4 linked regions of the Homo sapiens genome follow. The protein of the gene in region 3 purifies or fractionates together with the protein of the main gene of each other region. This does not show direct contact. Each region holds a gene or a part of one and is shown on either strand. Other genes may lie near its edges.

Region 1 (4,604 bases), about 120 Mb from region 3:
CTGCCCTGTCTCTGGTTGTGCCTGAGTTGGAGGAAGGCTAAATCGTGGCTGAGGGGCCTCAGGCCCTGGGGGAGTCTCTGAGGCCAGAGGCAACCTATCTCCATGGTGACTAAAGAGGCTTGAGACACTCCCAAGAGGACCAAGGCTCCAGCTCTCTCCTCTGATTCCATCCACAAATTCCCCCAATGCCCTGGGGGGCCCCCAAAGTAAAAACTCCTTGGGTCCTTGGAGGAGTGGGGCCTGGGGAAGTGAGATCTAACCATATCGTGATCTCCAGCAACTCCTGACCTCCCATTCTTTCTCTTCCTTTTCTGTCCTTTCTGGCATTCCTTCCGTCTTTCTCCTATTCCTTTAGCGTCTTCATCTCTTTTTCTTTCCCATGATCTGAGGGATTGTCTCTTACTCAGCTCTAATCCAACCTAACCCATCCATGGAGCCACACTGAATGTCTTCTCCCAACATTCAGATACAACCAAACCACACCACCTGTTGTCATCATCAACACACACAGGCCAAGTTTCCACTGAGTACTCAGCATGGTACTAGACCCTGATGAAAAAATGGCCATACTTGTACAAGACAGACAAGTGAACGATGAGGCAATTGAGTGTCTTGAGTCGAATGAGAAGTGCCCTACTAAAGCTTTTCCCAACTTATTCCATGAAACTACTTCTACTGCTACTGCTCACTTCCTTTTTTTTTTTTTTTTTTTTTTTTGAGATGGAGTTTTGCTCTTGTTGCCCAGGCTGGAGTGCAATGGCACGATCTCAGCTCACTGCAACCTCTGCCTCCCAGGTTCAAGCAATTCTCCTGCCTCAGCCTCCTGAGTAGCTGGGATTACAGGCATGTGCCACCACACCCAGCTAATTTTGTATTTTTAGTAGAGACAGGGTTTCTCCATGTTGGTCAGGCTGGTCTTGAGCTCCTGACCTCAGGCGATCTGCCCGCCGTGGCCTCCCAAAGTGCTGGGATTACAGGCATGAGCCACCATGCCCGGCACTCACTTCCATTTTTTGAGTCCTTACTAGGTGTGAGGTACCATGCTAAGCACTTTGTGTGAATTAGTTCAATCAGTGCTCATAACTCTTTATGATATGGGTCATTTTAATATTAATTTTGCAGAAGTGAAAACTAAATAGTGATGCAGCCAAATTCAAACACAAAGCAGGCGGGTCTCCTATTACCTATTATGCTATAAAAAAGGCGTTCTGTGGTGAAGTTAGTTTTGGTAGTAAGAAATTCATGATCACATTAGCCTATTAAAGGCTCTGCAGAGTCCTCCAAAAAAGGGGGAACCTGTTAGACTTCGTTTAACCTTTTTTTTTTTTTTTTTTGAGACAGGGTCTTGCTCTGTCACCCAGGCTGGAGTGCAGGGGCGCAATCTTGGCTCATTGCAACCTCTGCCACCTGGGCTCAAGCGATCCTCCTGTGTAGCTGGGACTACAGTCGTGCACCACCACACCTGGCTAATTTTTGTAATTTCTGTAGAGACAGGGTTTTGCCATGTTGCCCAGGCTGGTCTCAACTCCTGGGCTCAAGCGATCTGCCCACCTCAGCCTCCCAAAGTGCTTGGATGACAGGTGTGAGCTGCCGTGCCTGGCCCCAATTTTGTTTACCTCTTGAGTTTTCTGAATTTATTTCACCATATTGCCCCTCCCTTCCTTTGACGAGCACAGTATGGGAAAACTTGTACAAGACATGGAAATGGGCTTCTGGAAGGAGAAAGTCAGCTTGTCAATGATGAGCAGGATTAGGGCAGGAGGGTCCCCTGCCTCCTCACAGGGTCACCGTGTAAGCAAACTCCTGCGGCAGAAGTGAACCAAGTTGGAGGCAGGGAAAGGGCAGAAAAAGGAATATTCTGGCAAGAAGAGGGGCATAAGAGAAAGCTGAAAGATGAGACTGGAAGAACTGTAGGTTGTAGAGGACATAGGTGCCTTACCAAAAGTTCTTCAGAAGGAACTAGTCCCTGAAAGCTCATGAGTGTTTTAGATGAACTGAGTTTTAGAAAGAGCACTGGAATATATGGTGGGCTTAAAAGGGCATAGAGATGAAGGTACAGGACTGAACCTCTAAGAGTTGGACTATGATGGTGGCAATGGGGGTGATGGATGGATGGATTTGGCAAAGGTTAGGGAGAAAGGACCCACAGGATTCAAGGGATAATTGGATATGAGGTAGGGATAGGGAATGAGGGGAGAGCTACCAGGATTCTCAGGTAGACATCAGCCTTCTGAGTCTGGGTGATAGGATAGTGATGAGATCATTGCCCATACAGAAGCTAATTGAAGAAGCATTTGGTTTCAGACATGTTGAATCTTAAGGGCCAGTAGGCAGAGCCAACTGGAAATAATCAGCAAGTGTCTAGAGCTTCAGGACTCAAAGAGTTTGAGAGAGATTTTTTGATCTGGGCTTTTATAATTTGATAGTCATAAAATTAGAGGGAACATTAAGTGTTGGGTATAACCCAACCCTCCATTTTATGGAAAAGAATCATGGGAAAAGAGACCAAGCGACTTGCTTAGTAGGCAGGACCAAAGCCTTCAATTACCAGATATGGGTTCTGCAGGGAGGTGGGACTGCTGGCCAGTATCTTGAAAGAAAACTGGAAAGAGAAGCACCAACAACCATGTTGCCCTGTGCCTCCCAGACCCCTCCTGGACCCTAATCACCCCTACACCAGGTGGACTACACTCCTTTATAGCCTCCCGGCCCCAAACATCCATGTTAGTTTTGGGGACCTTATCAGTCATCACCCAGACCCTTCAGTGTTTTAGATCAATACAAGGATTCCAAGAACGGTCGCTTATTCCTGAAGATGAGGTGGGAGCCATCTTCAGGAATGGGGATAGTGGGGAGGCAGTTCTGGGCTACCTTCACAGCAGCTCCAAAACTCCTGTCCTGACAGCCTCTTCCACCCTAGCTGCCTTGAATGGGGCTATTAGGAGGGTAAGTCTACAAAGCCAGGGCCACCTCCCCTGGCCATCTTCATAACCTCCTATCCAGAGTTATAGAGTAAGACAAAGCACTGCCAAAGTCTTGGAGGATGGGAAGGAGCTTAGAGACTCATCAGCAGGGCCCTGGGCTTAGCTGTTTTCACCCCTGGCCTCCAGGGACCCTGAGTCTGCACCCTCCACAACTCCTAATTTCTGGTTGGCAGGAAAATCTGTGGCAGTCCCAAGTGGGTATTTGGGTGGCTGGCTGGTTGTGCCAAGTGCCAAGTTGAGATTGCCAGGTTCCAGGGCTGATCGTTAACCTGTGGCAGGCATACAGGGCTGCTGGCTGGGAGCAGCCTGTCACGGTTCCACTCCCCCGACCCCCAGTCCCCAGTCCAAGCCTCCAAGTCTGGCTCCTCATGCCAGCAGCCCTCCCAGAAGCTCCTTCCTATTTCCTGGAAGGAGTCTCCCTTTGAGACCAGCTTTCCTAATCCCTAATGGGTGCCATGCCCTCTCCCCATGTCCAGGCTCCTGGCAGAGCCCTACCCTCTCCAGTGAATATTCTATTTCCTGATCGGGAGGACTGGGGAGTTTCCATTGTTCTGCTTTGTCCCCTTCCCCCAGGTGCCCTGGTTTGTTATCAGGCTCCTCCCTTTTTTTCCACTCCCAGGCCTCTCTGGAGGGGAGTGAAGTGGGGATGGGGGGCTGAGTGGGAGGGGCGACAGCAGGGAGTCTTCAGACTGCTGCAACATCACAAACCAGGGATGAGGAACACAGGATAAGAAAAGAAAGGTTGTTCCCTCATTTGGAAGGAGGCAGTGGCAAGAGCAGTGAGACAGGTGAGGAGCTGGAGTTTGGAGGGTGCTGTTTGGAAATGAGGGAACTAACTGTTGTGGTATTGGTGAGCTGTTTGGGAGTTAGGAGTCTGCTTCTTTTAGGAAGCTGTTCTAGAAACTGCAGGCTATGCTGGTGTTTAGAGGCTGAGCTGGAATTAGGGGAGTCGGGTGGTATTATGTTACTCTGGTATTGGGCTCTACACCGTATTACAGGTCATTCTGGGATTAAAGGGAGGCTGTGCCAATATTGGGAAGCTGGGTTAGAACTAGAAGGGTTGTGCTATAACAAGCGGTTGCACTGGATGAGGGTTATTGGGGTAGCATAGGGGCTATAATAACACTGGGGCCTGCGCTGTATTGGGACTTCCAGTATGTGGACTTGGCTGTACTAGGAGCGGTCCTAGAACTCAGGAGCTGTCTTTCACTGGGGCCTGTGCTTTCGGGAGGAATGTGCTGTGCTGGGGCCTGGGTCTCTTCTTGGTTGCTGTTGAAGCCTGAGTAGGATGGTGCTTGGCTTGTACTAGGGCCTGGTATGGTGGTGGGCCCTGTGGGCAAGCTGGCTGGTCAGTAGTGACAATCTGTCTCCCTGCAGTTACCTCACCGCCGCGTCACCTTCTCGGCCACCAGCCAGGCCCAGGAGCTGCAGGACCCATCCCAGCACAGTTACTATGACAGTGGCCTGGAGGAGTCTGAGACGCCGTCCAGCAAGTCATCCTCAGGGCCTCGACTCGGTCCCCTGGCCCTGCCTGAGGATCACTATGAGCGCACCACCCCTGATGGCAGCATAGGAGAGATGGAGCACCCCGAGAATGGTGAGGCGCAGCACCATGGTCAG
Region 2 (4,604 bases), on a different chromosome or scaffold from region 3:
CTAAGAACAAGTAACCCTAGAGCTGCTGGGAGAAGAATCTGCCAGAAAATGAAGTCCACACAAAGAAAAGCAGAGCCAAGACATGGCAGAGCCAGAGAAACAGGGTTCAGATGCCACCATGCAAAGTCCTTGATCCAGCTTCTCCTGGAGCTCTTTTATTCCTGAGACTCCCTGGTCACATCAGTCAGTAAGTTTCCCTTTCTGCCAATGCTAGCAGTTTGAGTTAGTCTCTGTCGATTAGACTAACAGAAACAGGTCCAGCAGAAAATGAAATAAAAATATATTTAGCAAAAAATCATCTGAGTTAGTTTTACAGTTATGGATTTCAAATTTCACCATTTGAAACAGATAAATTTGTACACTAAATAGTAACTAAAAATATTAATAGCAAGATCTCAAAGATACCCATTGGGAAATTTTACCTTGGGTGCAATAATTTAAGCTTAAGAAGGGTTTTTGCCACTGACTTGGAGGTAACAATGACATGACCATTTCTCAGGGACTTTTTGACAATTATCTTACTTATGAATAAACCAGAAAGATAGATGATACTAAATATTAGTTTCGCCCTTAGACCCAAATATCTAGGACCTCTCCCCTGGGCCCCATGCCTGGATGGCCCCATTCTGTATACAGTGGTTTAGGTGGCTTCACTGTATTACTATGTAATTATTATTCTCCAAATTTCCATAAAAGTTGTCAATATCACTTTTTTTCAAACATATGCATGAACCATCATGAAAACTTGAGTACTATCTTAATGCTATTTATTTATTTATTTATTTAGAGATGGAGTCCCGCTCTGTCACCCAAGCTGGAGTGCAGTGGCGTGCGCCGATCTCGGCTCACGGCAACCTCTGCCTCCTTGGTTCAAGTGATTCTCCTGCCTCAGCCTCCCAAGCAGGTGGGACTACAGGTGCACCCCACCACGCCTTGCTAATTTTTGTATTTTTAGTAGAGATGGGGTTTCACCATGTTGGCCAAGCTAGTCTCAAACACCTGACCTCAGGTGATCTGCCTGCCTCAGCTTCCCAAAGTGCTGGGATTACAGGCATGAGCCACCGCACCTGGCCTGTATCTAAATTTTATCGCAAATTATCTGAGTCATCTTGGGCAAGCCCTTTGACTTCTCTGGACCCCAACTTCACCATATAATAGGAAGATGTCCTGCCTAACCTGCCTGGAGTGTTGAGGACATCCGGTGGGACAACATCTGCAAACGCACTTTGAAAAACATAGAGATTATTAATGTAAGAGCAAGAGTCCTTAAGACAAAACTCAATTTTATTCTATGCTTTTTGACAGTTGGGATCTGCGGAAAAGCCATAGGCTTATTACAAATTCTGAATCTCTTTTCAGGATCTAATCTGAATCTATCAGATTAGACCTCTCACAGGTCAAATGTAGAGAAGGATTAGATTATAGTAATAGAACTAGGACCTTGATCACATCTCCAACTGGCCTTTCTGATCTTGCAACCCTTTGTCACCTACAGGAAATCTGCCCAAACCAGTCTACTCCCCGTCTCCCAAACAAGATCCAGACTTTGTTGTATTCAACCACTCCCCTCACCTCAAATCTGCTCTCTTAACTCATCCATCACTCAACATCTTGCTTGAACTTCAAGAACAAGTTCATCCACTCTGACAACCAGCGCCCCCTAGGGCTCACTTGGTGATGAGTTAGGCACTGTTTTGTTATAGTTCTTATGTGATTCTCTGAAGACGTCCTGTAAATTTCTCATTGTTACAGTTCCTGCGTATCTCCAACCTGTCTTGACAATTAGACTGTAAGTATGCTAAAGCCAGTCACTGCCTTGTACTCTTCTTGCACAAAGTAGATACTCAGCAAATATTTGTTGGTTAGTTAAAAAGGAAATTGTCCAAAGGAGGAAAATGGCTTAGAAAAGAATTTATAAAGAAATGAAATGAGGGAGATAAACTCATAGAACAGCAGGTTACCCATTGAAATCTATTAAACATAGACAAGGGAGCTGGTCTATTCAAAAGAAGCCCAGAAATCTGAAATCAAATATTTAGAATGGAAAGAAACTTCAGGATAATCCAATTGACATTCTTCATTCATTGTGGTTAATCACCCACTAACTTCTCTGACTTGTGAATTGAGTTTTTATACATTTAATTTTTTATGTTATAAAATATGACTCTCAGTAATTTCCTAGAAACAGAGTCTGAGAGAATAGAACCTTGAAAAAATGGCAGCTATTTCATCGATATAAAAAAATATTTTTTCTTGCTAGAGTCAAGCCAGACATCTTGAGCCAGACTTGTGGTATCCCTTTTTTATTTTACACTTCAATATGGAAAAGAACAGATGATTAACAGAAAGACAGGATTCCTCACCTGGAAACACAGAAAATGCTGACTGGTTCAGAGGGGAGCTAACTTCAGGAGCGAATCCAAAGTGTTAGAAGGTCCTAGAAGTCAAATTGTTGAGCTTTGATATGCTGTCAGAGAAAGCACTGGCTTGGGACTCAGAGGACCGAGATTTTGAGAACTTGCTTCATCAGTTTCACTTATGTGACCATTGACAGTTTCCCAAATTCTAATTATCAGATTTTTTTTGGTCTTAAAAATAGGGTCATGGATGGAATTAAATGAGATAATGTATTTAAAGACACTTCATTTATAGAAAAGCTTAATTTGCATTATTTATTATCCAGTTAATTTCCATTAAAAACTATTTTAATCTAGCTGTCCTGAAGGTGAGCCTTTATAATCTAAGAACCGAAATGGCATCATAACACCCTTGAAGCCCCTTGGTTATTCATCCTTATCCTGGCTCTAAAGATAAACTAATCCTCGGCTCTAGCATGTTCCAGCCCTTGCAGCTTTCCCTGAACTCACACGCCCTCAACAAATGACACGTAGCCAAGAGCTTCCCGCTCTACAATTAGTCACATCAATCTGAAGCCTCCTCACGGGTTGGTGAACACAGCAGTATCTTCTTTCGCTGCCTGAGATTCTTGCAAAGATGGGAGAGGCAGCTTTTCAACAGCCTAAAAGGCCATCTCCACCACCAGAATGTGTCTTCTCTCCAAGTCCCCCCTTCCGTGGTCATATGAGTGGCTCTGTCCTGTGTGGAGAGGCATCACTGCCCTCTGTGAGCTGTCCGTTGAAAGAATCAGTGAGGTCCTCCCACCTCAAGATGGTCCAGGCATGCTTACCACCTGGGACCCCTCCCAGCTGACCGCAACCCAGCCCTAGCTTGAAAAGGCCTCTGAGACACTGTTCAAAAGTCATTGGCTTTTGTCCAATGGACCAACTTAGGTTCCTGTGGGGTAGACTCCTGATGGCAGAGTATGAATGAACACTAATGATCATCCGTGTCAGCTAATAATATGAAACATATCTGCCCTAGCATAAAAGCCAGAGTGGGAACACACTCCACCATTTTCATAGCAATACTGCTCATGTGCAAGGTTGGAAATAGAGACATAACGCTAAATAAAGCCCTCGAATTGGCTATCCTGGAACTTCATCTGTACACTGTTTCTTAGAGATCTTAAATTGTGTTTAACAGAATGGAAGGGAACCTAGACATCAGAGAGCACTCTCAGTTAGCAAATGGCATCACCAAGGCAGAGAAAGGAAGGGACATTCCCAGGATCACTCAATGAGTGGCAAGGCTAGAATGGAGCACAGGGCTGTCCAACCCTCCAGACTCTGTGGCCGCTTCTGTAACCAATTAAACATGCTCTGCCCTGAAGCATTTAGCATCTAAGCTGAATGTAACCTCTGGGTGTCTCCTTATCCAAAAGCAAGGGGTGTGGCCAGATCATCTCCCCACCTACCCCTTAGCCCCGATGACTCCATAGCACAAAATCAGAACTGCAATCCACCAACCTGGTATCAGCCTCCCACAGACTGTGTGTTTATGAGCTCTGGCTCTTGCTGTTATGCCAGGCTACTTTCCTCAGTGAGCAGACACGCGATAAATACTGACAACTGATTGGCTGATGAATGAGCTCATAAATAATAATGTTTACAGCTTCCTTCCTGAACTCACAGCCAAAGCAACTCCGCTAAATGGCCTCTTTTCCTCCTTTCTTTCCTCCTCGGCTTGCTTATAAATTTTAAGATGCATCATGCAAGATGTCAGGGAAGCAATTACTTTGGGGTTTACCCTTAAAAAGGAAAAAAAATAGCACCAAAGTCCATAGGGGAAAATTTCCCTGAACTAAACATGAACCAGAAAATGTATACAGACTTTGATTACACATGGTACTCCAGGGTTCTTTAATCAAACGGTCCATCAGGGTGTCAAGAGCTCTTTCCCCTGGTTTCCAAGAGAGGAGAACACGATCCTTTTTTCCGGGCAGGAGGAGAGTGCCAGGGACAGATCTAAGGGCAGAGGCCACTGACAAATGGAAGGTGAAGTCTGAGATGTAGACACTACCAGGACAGCAGCCATAATATGTGGAAGACCCAGGACCAGAAGAGCCTGTGTGTGTGTGTGGGTGGGGGGGGGGGGTGTATAACAGCAGAAATGGATGCTATTCATTTAATTTGGATACCAAGGATTCATGCTTAGGGGCTTGGAATAAAGCAGATACACATCTTTCTTCTAAGTATAGAAGAAAG
Region 3 (4,604 bases):
GGGATGCTCTGATAGATGTATTTACAGGTCAAAAGACACAGAGAACTCAGAAAAAGAGAATAAGAAGAAGCACTCAGTGATGAAAGAATAAAACCAGAAACTAATAAAGAAAAAGCAGATGAAAGATTTAATGTGAAAAAAATCATCTAAACATTAGAATTGCTGGATTTTGAATTTTGATGGATACTGTCAAATTTACTTCCCAAAGATTCCACATTTTACAATCCAGCCAAAACTCTATGAGACAGGTCTGTGCTTTTGTGATGTTTTGTGTGTTTTAAATAAGCATGACCTTCACTTTTGTTTTTAAAAAGTAACACCTGCTTGACAATATCCCTATCTGGAGGTGTGTGTAAACCTCTGGGCCAGGGCAGATCACATGCCATATATTTTCATTTATACCTCTTTCCCTCATCACTGGTGTTATATAATTGTGGCATATAAAAATTAATTGTCAGCAAAATGTAAAATGTTGAGATTTGAGTATATGAAAGAATTTTTTTAATACCGTTGTTAAAATTTTTATTGTTAATGTTTAATATAAATAGGAATTTGCCCTATGTGTTAGGTTATTGACACGACTACAATTCATTCCAATTCCATTCTCAACAACAGTTGTTATACTGGGCTTCCTTCTTGTAGGATCTTATATTGGTGATCTTCTTCTAGTAGGTGTTAAAGCACAAATCCTGGATAGTTATTAATATAACTAGATTTCTCACTATAAGACACTCTTTTACTTGAGAAATTTATTTGAGGTTTTCTATTCTTACCTAAGTAAACATATAACTTAAAGCCTTGCCAAGAGCTTGTTTTGCACTTTTCAGTCACTATCATTTCCTAGTAATTAGGAAAGTGTAGAGTTTCAGTAAAATCTTGCTTTAAAACCTGCCTGCAATCACATCCCTTAAAATAATGGCAACCCCTCATGGAAATATTGACTCAGAAAGTTGCAGGAAGACACTTCATTTGGGTATATTGTTATCTGCTGTTACTTCAATCATTCCTACATTCTTTACTCAGAAATCGTCTTAAATACATCATTTCATTTAGTGCTGATGATAGCACCCCAAAATATATTTTCACTGTAGAATGGAAACTATTAATGTTAATTTCCTCTGGTTTTCAACATTTACTGAGCATTTGAAGCTCTTTCCATTACATTTAAAAGTATTATTTTTGATCGTTTAATTAGCATCACGTTTTGGTTATTTCCTAATAATCCTTTTTTGAATAAACATTGAAGTGCCAGATAAAATTATATGATTTTTAAAAAAATAGTATATCACTGGCATTATTAAAATTAATGACATTTTCTAATTGTATCCCTCATCTATCCTCCAGATATTATAAACTTTCATGTTCACTAAAACTTTAATCCATCATTTAATTCCCTTTTACTGTATGATCAGCCTCTTTCTTTTATTCTTTTTTTTTCTTTCTTTCTTTTTTTTCTTGTGAGACCGAGTCTCACTCTGTCGCCCAGGCTGGAGAGCAATGGTGCGATCTCGGCTCACTGCAACCTCCGCCTCCTGGGTTCAAGTGATTCTCCTGCCTCAGCCTCCTGAGTAGCTGGGATGAAAGGTGTGCACCACCATGCCTGGTGATCAGTCTCTTTTTAATGTTTTCTATTTTATCTATTCATGTGTTCAAGTCTCTATAAAACAAAATACTACAAATTTCCCTTCATTATGTACTAACTCTCTGGTTACCTCCTGTTGTCTCTTTATTTGACATGTTAACCTTTTGAAATATGATGGCAAAACTTTCATCACAATGTAAACTTACTAATTTTTCAAATTCCAGGAATATCCATGTCTGTCCATTGAAAGCATTCTTTTTTTAACCTTCAAGTGATTGTTTTATCTACTTAATCAATCAATTACTGATACTATTGCTGCTTTTTAGTGATTACATTTTAACTTACCTAATGTGGTGCCAGATTAATAGCCTATTCTTTCCTTCAAACAGTGTAACCATCTTGCAAGACTTTATCCCCCAATTTTGTTATTCTTGTCCAGTATTTTAGTTCAATTATGTAACACCATAAATTTGTAATATTATTGTTCATACACGATCAAAGTTTGTTACCCACACCCCCATGGTCTCCATTTTCTTTGCTTCCCAGTCCTTCTTGGATCTCAGATCTTCTGTCTGGGATCATTTTCCTTCTTGAAGCACATTGGTTAGTTAGTTTATCAGGGAGGGATGCTGGTGATTTTGTTTGTTTGAAAATGTCTCTACTTTTCAAAGAGAATTTCTTCAGTGTGTAACTCTAGCTTGGCAATTATTTTATTTGAGTTATAATGGAATTATGGGTACACATTTCTTGGCTCTCCTTGCTGTCACTGAGAATACTGATTCAGTCTAATTGTTATATTTTGTAGATAATCTGTCTTTCTTCCCCATTTTGGAAATCTTTATTTTCTGTATTGTACTTTTTTTATGCTGTACGTAAGTGTGGATTTTTTTTTCTCATCATATCATATAAAGTTTAGGATATATTGTGCTTCTTCAGAGTGAGGACTCACATTTCATCAAAAAATGTTTTTTTTTTAGACAAGTCACTTGGGAACCCCTTTTACCCCAACGTGACAAAATTCAACACATAACAAACCCTGGACATTACATATTTTCTTCCAACCCCATGTTCCAGCTGTGGCTGTAGTTATCCTCTACAAATCTAGCTTAGAGATGAGGAAGGTTAAAAGGAGAAAGACCTGACCATGATAAGTGTTATCTGTGGGGTAATTCAAATTAAATTAACAGAATAACTCAAAGTTCAAAAAGTTAAATAACTTTTCCCAAATTGCTCATGTAATAATCCTTAAACTATGGTTTCAAACAATTGTCTGACTCAAGTTTTGAACTTTCCACATCATCATGTAGACGGTGCATCAGGACTCTCATCTTTGTACATGGGGGATTTTTTTTGTATGTTATAATAATTTTCCAGGAAATTGGAATTATAGAACCTATTGATTTTATGGTGTACTAAAGGTATATTCAACCTTACTTGTATTTAGCATCGTGCTTTGCCGGTAAGTCTAAATACACTACCTGTGTCCTAATGTTTGACTATGTATTTGGACTTGGAACCAAGCATGCATCATTCAGCCATTTGAACACATAGTAAAAACTTAATACATTTGAAGAGGCAAGAGTAACATATATCCATTTGAACACATAGATTTAAGGAATAATACGTAAGTCCTGTATTTCCCTAATGGGTATCGGTGTACAGATTGGAGTCTCATTGTTTCTCACTAGAACCTTCACAGATATATGCATGAGATGTATATATTTTAAGAAGAATTTTACATTGTTCAAGAAACACATATCTTACATTCAAGGTAATATAAATCCATCTGTAGAGCAATGGATTAAATATTCATGGAGCAAGGGTTATGAAAGAAAACCACTGTAAAAAAATACCTGAAGCATAATGAAGATTTAATTTATCCCTTAATACCATCAGCTATAACATGATAGACACAAATCTGAATACAGCTAAATTTATAAGACTGGTAAACATATGCCTTGTTTTCAATAATTTAACAGGTGCTTACTAAATGAAGTGATAATTAATAATTGAGTAATTGAATAATTGAATTCAAAGCATTTATCTATAATCTCACAAAACGTAGAATAACATTATGTAGAGTTCATCTGTAATTTTAGAACAGTCATAACTCTCACTTAATATGTTGTAAAAAAGTTATTTACTCCATTTTATTAATCATCTTATGATGAGATGCTTAAAAACAACTTTGAGTAACTACTATTGATATTCAATACAGGCAGCATAGTACACATTCACACACACACATTTTCCTTTTAAAGTTTGGTTATGATATATTACCCTCCTAGCATAGTAAGTCAGGAAAAAGCTGCAACTGTCTTAAAGCTGAAAGTTAAAAGGCTTTTAAAAGCTCTGAGTTTAAATTGTTCAGTTATTCAGTATTAGCAAAATAAAAAGCTCCCAGTAAAAATAATACATTTTCATTTATTTAACAATTAAATGTATTTTTGGGTACTATTTAAGCCTATTCATAAAAATAAAATGCAATATTTGTTAAACAGGAAGGATAAATATTTTCCACCTATAATTTAACACAAATAGGAATATCAATTGGTACTAGATTATAAGCAAAATGTTCTCTATTGATGTAATGATCACATGATAATTTCTGACATAATTACTTTTAAAACAGCAATAATTTGCTAGAAGATGAACAGGATAATATCTTACTTTAAATGAGACATCTGTAATCACTCTTTCCCTTTGGAAGTAGGAAGAAATTTACAACAGAGTCTGCTAGTAGGTCATTTTATTACCCAAGCCCTTAGATTTTATATTTTTACATGAAAACATGGCTCACTTTTAAAGACAGCCATCACTCTATGAATCCTCCTATCATGGCAAGACTGATTTGATGTTCATCACAATGCATTTTAAGAGGCAAGAGTGACATATATCCTTATTAATCTCATAATGATAAAGGATTGATTTCAACCTATATCCCAGACTGTTACATGAAATAGGCTCTGCCAAAATATCAGGTTCAAAAGATGCTCAATTTAAGGAGATCAGTTTTATGCTC
Region 4 (4,604 bases), on a different chromosome or scaffold from region 3:
TAAATGAATTATCACATATTCATATAATAAAATGCTATGCAGCCAGTAAACATAAGGTTAGAGAATGTTTATTGATATGGTAACATATTCACAATATATTGAGTAAAGAGAATAGATTGCAAAACAGCATTTACAATATGAGTCCATTTTATAAAAAATAAGCAAAGTGTAATGTGTGTGTGTGTGTGTGTGTGTGTTTGTGTGTGTGTGTAAATATACCACTCCTATATGCTCAGAAACATTGGAAAGACACATACCAAATTATTAGCAGTTATTTTGGGGGATGAGATGTTTTATTTTCTTCTTTGTCTTTTTGTTCTTTCTAGTGAACATATATTTCTTTTCCACTATACAAAAATGTAAAAGCCACATTCTTAGAGATCTCGTGGCCCTGGATATCATCTCATGTATTACTCATCTAGTGTTGTGGAACAGCATGCTGGAGGCTTGCTGTGTATAGGCCATAAAACCGGGCTGGAAATAACCTTTTTAGATCCTATTTTAGTCCTCAAATCCTCACAAGTGGGCTCCTTCAGGAACCCACTTTATGTTAAATTCTACTCTCTAACAAAGGCTATGACAATGCTTCAAACACTTGTAATATGTATATATGTTCCCATATCAATATGTCTTCATGTGCTTTTAATACCTTCTATATATTAATGGTTTATAAATTGTTAACCCCAGGGATCCACTTAGATGCTTCAAGAGGCTTGAAAAAAAGTTGGATCCAAAATTTAAAAAAATATACAATTGTAATTATTTTTAAAAATACAATTAAAAATGTCTCACCATATTTTACAGCAGAGAACAGCAGCATTACTTTATGCCACCAGGATCTCTGCCATCATTTGAAAATAGTTTAACTGCATGATTGTTTAAGAAAACTGTAGCTCTAAATTAGTCTTAAAAAAAATTCGAGCTACACAGAGAGTTTATGCATATAAAATTGAAACAGGTTGTACAGCAGCACAAGACACAACAAGGACCAGGCACATCTGCTCATTGCATATTCTCATCATAGGCCTAACCATGAATTGTGCATAAAGAAGTAACAGTTTAATGAATTTCCTTATTGTTCTTCATTTACAGTTTTAGTACCTAGAATAAGTAGTAATTTTTCTCCTTACAGTTCTGCATTACAGTTTAATACTTAGAATAAGTATTAAATTTTTCTAGTCTTTTATAAGAATGTGAACCATACTTAGACATTTTTGGTGATACAACGTTGAAACAAAATTTTTCTACTTAACTCCCCTTTCAAATGCAATCTGTCTAGCAGAGTGTCCAGGCATTGCCAAGTAAGCTACTTTCTTTTTTTTTTTTTTTTTTTTTTTGAGACGGAGTCTCGCTCTGTCGCCCAGGCTGGAGTGCAGTGGCGGGATCTCGGCTCACTGCAAGCTCCGCCTCCCGGGTTCACGCCATTCTCCTGCCTCAGCCTCCCGAGTAGCTGGGACCACAGGCGCCCGCCACTACGCCCGGCTAATTTTTTGTATTTTTAGTAGAGACGGGGTTTCACCGTTTTAGCCGGGATGGTCTCGATCTCCTGACCTCGTGATCCGCCCGCCTCGGCCTCCCAAAGTGCTGGGATTACAGGCGTGAGCCACCGTGCCCGGCCCAAGTAAGCTACTTTCAACACCCAAGTAAATCAGAATTTCCTGTGCAACCAAAACCAAATGAAGATATCATATGAGCTGCAATTGATACAACTGCAACTGTCATTCAAAATGCAAATCATCCAAAATGCAAATATTGATTTTATGTTCATAAAACAGACACATTCTTCTTACTAGTTAATTTATAAGCAAATTTTATTTATAGTCAGTATTTGAATACTTTATGCCACTTCTATTGCTATCCCCTGGCCCAAGAGACCATCCTCTCATGAATATTACGGGACGCAGGGCCTCCTCACCTGTCCTCCTGCTTTTACGCCTTTTGCCTTTGTGGCCTGTTCTCAGCACCTGAATCATGGCATTTTTCACTCACTACTGTGCAATGGCCTCTCATTCCATTAGAATGAAAGTCAAATTCTGTATAATGGTTCACCACACCCTGCACCGACTGATGCCTCAGCACCATACAGACGCCATCTCCTGCTACCCCTCTACTCACAATAGCTGCTGTGACTCCCATGGTGCTTCAAACGGGTGGGTGCACCAGGCACCCATTCACAGCAAGGCCCTTGACCTTGTCATCCCTTCCTCCTCAAGGCCTCTTTGCTTCCTCACTTCTGAGAAGTCTTTGATCTAATGTCATCCTTTCAACGCACCTTCCTAGGCCATTCTTAACTTCAGTACTACCCAGCGTCCTCTAACTCCCATGTTTTAGACTTCCTCTTTGCATATATCACTATCTGAAGTGACTCTTGCTCATATCACTTAGTATTTACTGTCTGTCTCCTCCCACAACAGTGTAAGCTGCATGAGAGCAAGCAGAGAATTTTACCTGTTCTGGTACTTTCTGTATCCCCAGAAGCCTAGAGCAATGCCTGGCACAAATGGCCAGCAGACAATACACATTTGTTGAATGAATAAAATATTCTAAATTTGCATTCCTCACAATATTCTTATTAATAAAACCCATAAAATGTTATGTTTATACTGCCACCAAAGAAAGCTGCATAAAATTATAAGTTCCCAAGGAAGGTTTATGTGTTCACTATAATTTGGAACTATTTAAAGTACTCAGCATAATACTTCAACCACCACACTGACGGCACTCATCCCAATTAACATCTATAGGCCGCGCATCCTTTTAAGTCTCTCTCTACCCATTAGTCTTCACATATGTACAATAATAATAGTTTACTTAAAGGGGGATTATTTTTTAAGAATCTTTTCACTTTGGATTATATCTTCAACTTGATAAAGCAACTTAAGTCTAGCCAAGGCTTTCCTAAAAGAATTCCAACCATCCTTTCTACCACCGCCATGATCTGTGATGATTTTCACCCCATGCCTCTGTTCACCCAGCCTTTTTTCAAATATCACCACTTCTTTTAACTGCACAATTCTGTTGACATCTTCAAGTTGCACACCCACGTTCATTAAGTAGAATACACATTTGTGGAAATATCTAACATGTGACTGCTATCCTATTGAGCTCAATGGAAGCTACGTGGCTAAGTCATAGCCCATGCTCCATGAAGACCCTTTTTCTATCAGGTGTGATACACAGCTTCTCTCCACAACCTCTGTCTCCCTCTGTGTCATACAATTTGGCATGTATACAATTTTAGAACAGCTTCAGCCACAAGCAAGCATTGTGTAAGTGGAATGTTCATCTGGGACTGATGAGGAGATTTTTAGAAAACAGAAATGTCAGTTATGCTGATTTTTAAATATTTTCAGTTTAACAACTTGTTTATCCTAATGGTACTGCCTAGCACATTAGGATGAAAACTTGCAAGGTGATCATTTGATAATACCTTTATTCTCAGAGCTTATGAAATTGAAAGAGAAAGATAACAGCCCAGGAACGATAGACTGATTTACTGTTTGCTGTTAACTACAATAGACTTTTCAGTCAGGGCATGGATGTGTATGTGTTTTTGTATTCATACATGCTATATCAAAATAAATACAAATTGACTGTGCAGCAGGAGAAATGAGTGCACTGGACAGGAATTATGAAGGTGATCTGGCTGCATCCAATTCTACCTTGAAATCACCAAACAAGTGTGAAGTCCAACTAAATGTTATACAGTTTACATAAATGTCAAGTAGGAGGTGTTTTATTTCAGGCTTTGATCATGATGGTTCAATGTGAATAGAACTTGTGCATTTTGAAATTTAAGCACTATACCCATTGATGTATTGTCTGTAACCATGTCAAAATAGAAACTAAGATTTCAATAAAGCACAAAACATTCCTGCATCACGAGGCTGCGAACAGAAAACAAAAAGTGCCTGGAGTCAATAAAATACAAAAATCCATCAGCTCTGCTGATCTGCATGAGATTACACTGAAAGAAAAACTTCTAGTTGGCAGGATTCTAGACACCAAACTGAAAATTACATGTCACGTGTTGATCAACTCTTATTTAGTCACGTTCTGTGATTTCTATTTAGAAGAACATACTTTTTTGTCTGATTTATTTATATTGAGATCTTAACCATCACTGTGATCTCTGTAGTTTCTACTTCCTTCTTTGGCAGTAACTATTCATTAATAGAACCACTAGCGTGCCTTAATGTAAAACCAAATTCCACATCCATGTAATTAGCCCTTTGCTATTTTGTTAACAACAACAACGAACAAACAAACAGCGTCTCAGATTTCATAAGCATTCTTCGTTGACACATCTGCTATTCAAAAGATTCACTCAGCTGGGAGACTGTGGGGTCAACATTTCTAGCTGCACCCTACGTAATACCATGGATCAAAATTACAGAAAGTGTTGGTCATCCAGGGTCCTATAGAGACGTCCTCATAAGCAGCTGGGTGCCACATGATGCATCCACATTTTATTCTTTGTGTGCTGAAAAAGGCCAAGTCTTCCAAAATCAAAGAATCTGAAGGTTCATGGAAAGGAAACAAATTTTGTTTTTTTTAGTTTGTTAGGTTTTCTCATTGACATCTTTTTGCTTTCTCAGTGAGTT

The links.
Region 1: the proteins of CDH12 (region 3) and PCDH1 purify together in Homo sapiens (affinity purification with mass spectrometry; one large-scale study listed by BioGRID and IntAct). This does not show direct contact.
Region 2: the proteins of CDH12 (region 3) and FRMD4A purify together in Homo sapiens (affinity purification with mass spectrometry; one large-scale study listed by BioGRID and IntAct). This does not show direct contact.
Region 4: the proteins of CDH12 (region 3) and CTNNA2 purify together in Homo sapiens (affinity purification with mass spectrometry; one large-scale study listed by BioGRID and IntAct). This does not show direct contact.

Annotation. Positions count from the first base shown.
Region 1 is NC_000005.10:141,857,229-141,861,832, reverse strand, and holds part of PCDH1 (protocadherin-1 isoform 2 precursor), read left to right. Parts: intron 1-4,361; coding exon 4,362-4,581; intron 4,582-4,604. UniProt on the Homo sapiens protein: May be involved in cell-cell interaction processes and in cell adhesion.
Region 2 is NC_000010.11:14,323,888-14,328,491, forward strand, and holds part of FRMD4A (FERM domain-containing protein 4A), read right to left. Parts: intron 1-4,604. UniProt on the Homo sapiens protein: Scaffolding protein that regulates epithelial cell polarity by connecting ARF6 activation with the PAR3 complex. Plays a redundant role with FRMD4B in epithelial polarization. May regulate MAPT secretion by activating ARF6-signaling.
Region 3 is NC_000005.10:22,846,443-22,851,046, forward strand, and holds part of CDH12 (cadherin-12 isoform 1 preproprotein), read right to left. Parts: intron 1-4,604. UniProt on the Homo sapiens protein: Cadherins are calcium-dependent cell adhesion proteins. They preferentially interact with themselves in a homophilic manner in connecting cells; cadherins may thus contribute to the sorting of heterogeneous cell types.
Region 4 is NC_000002.12:79,910,900-79,915,503, reverse strand, and holds part of CTNNA2 (catenin alpha-2), read right to left. Parts: intron 1-4,604. UniProt on the Homo sapiens protein: May function as a linker between cadherin adhesion receptors and the cytoskeleton to regulate cell-cell adhesion and differentiation in the nervous system. Required for proper regulation of cortical neuronal migration and neurite growth.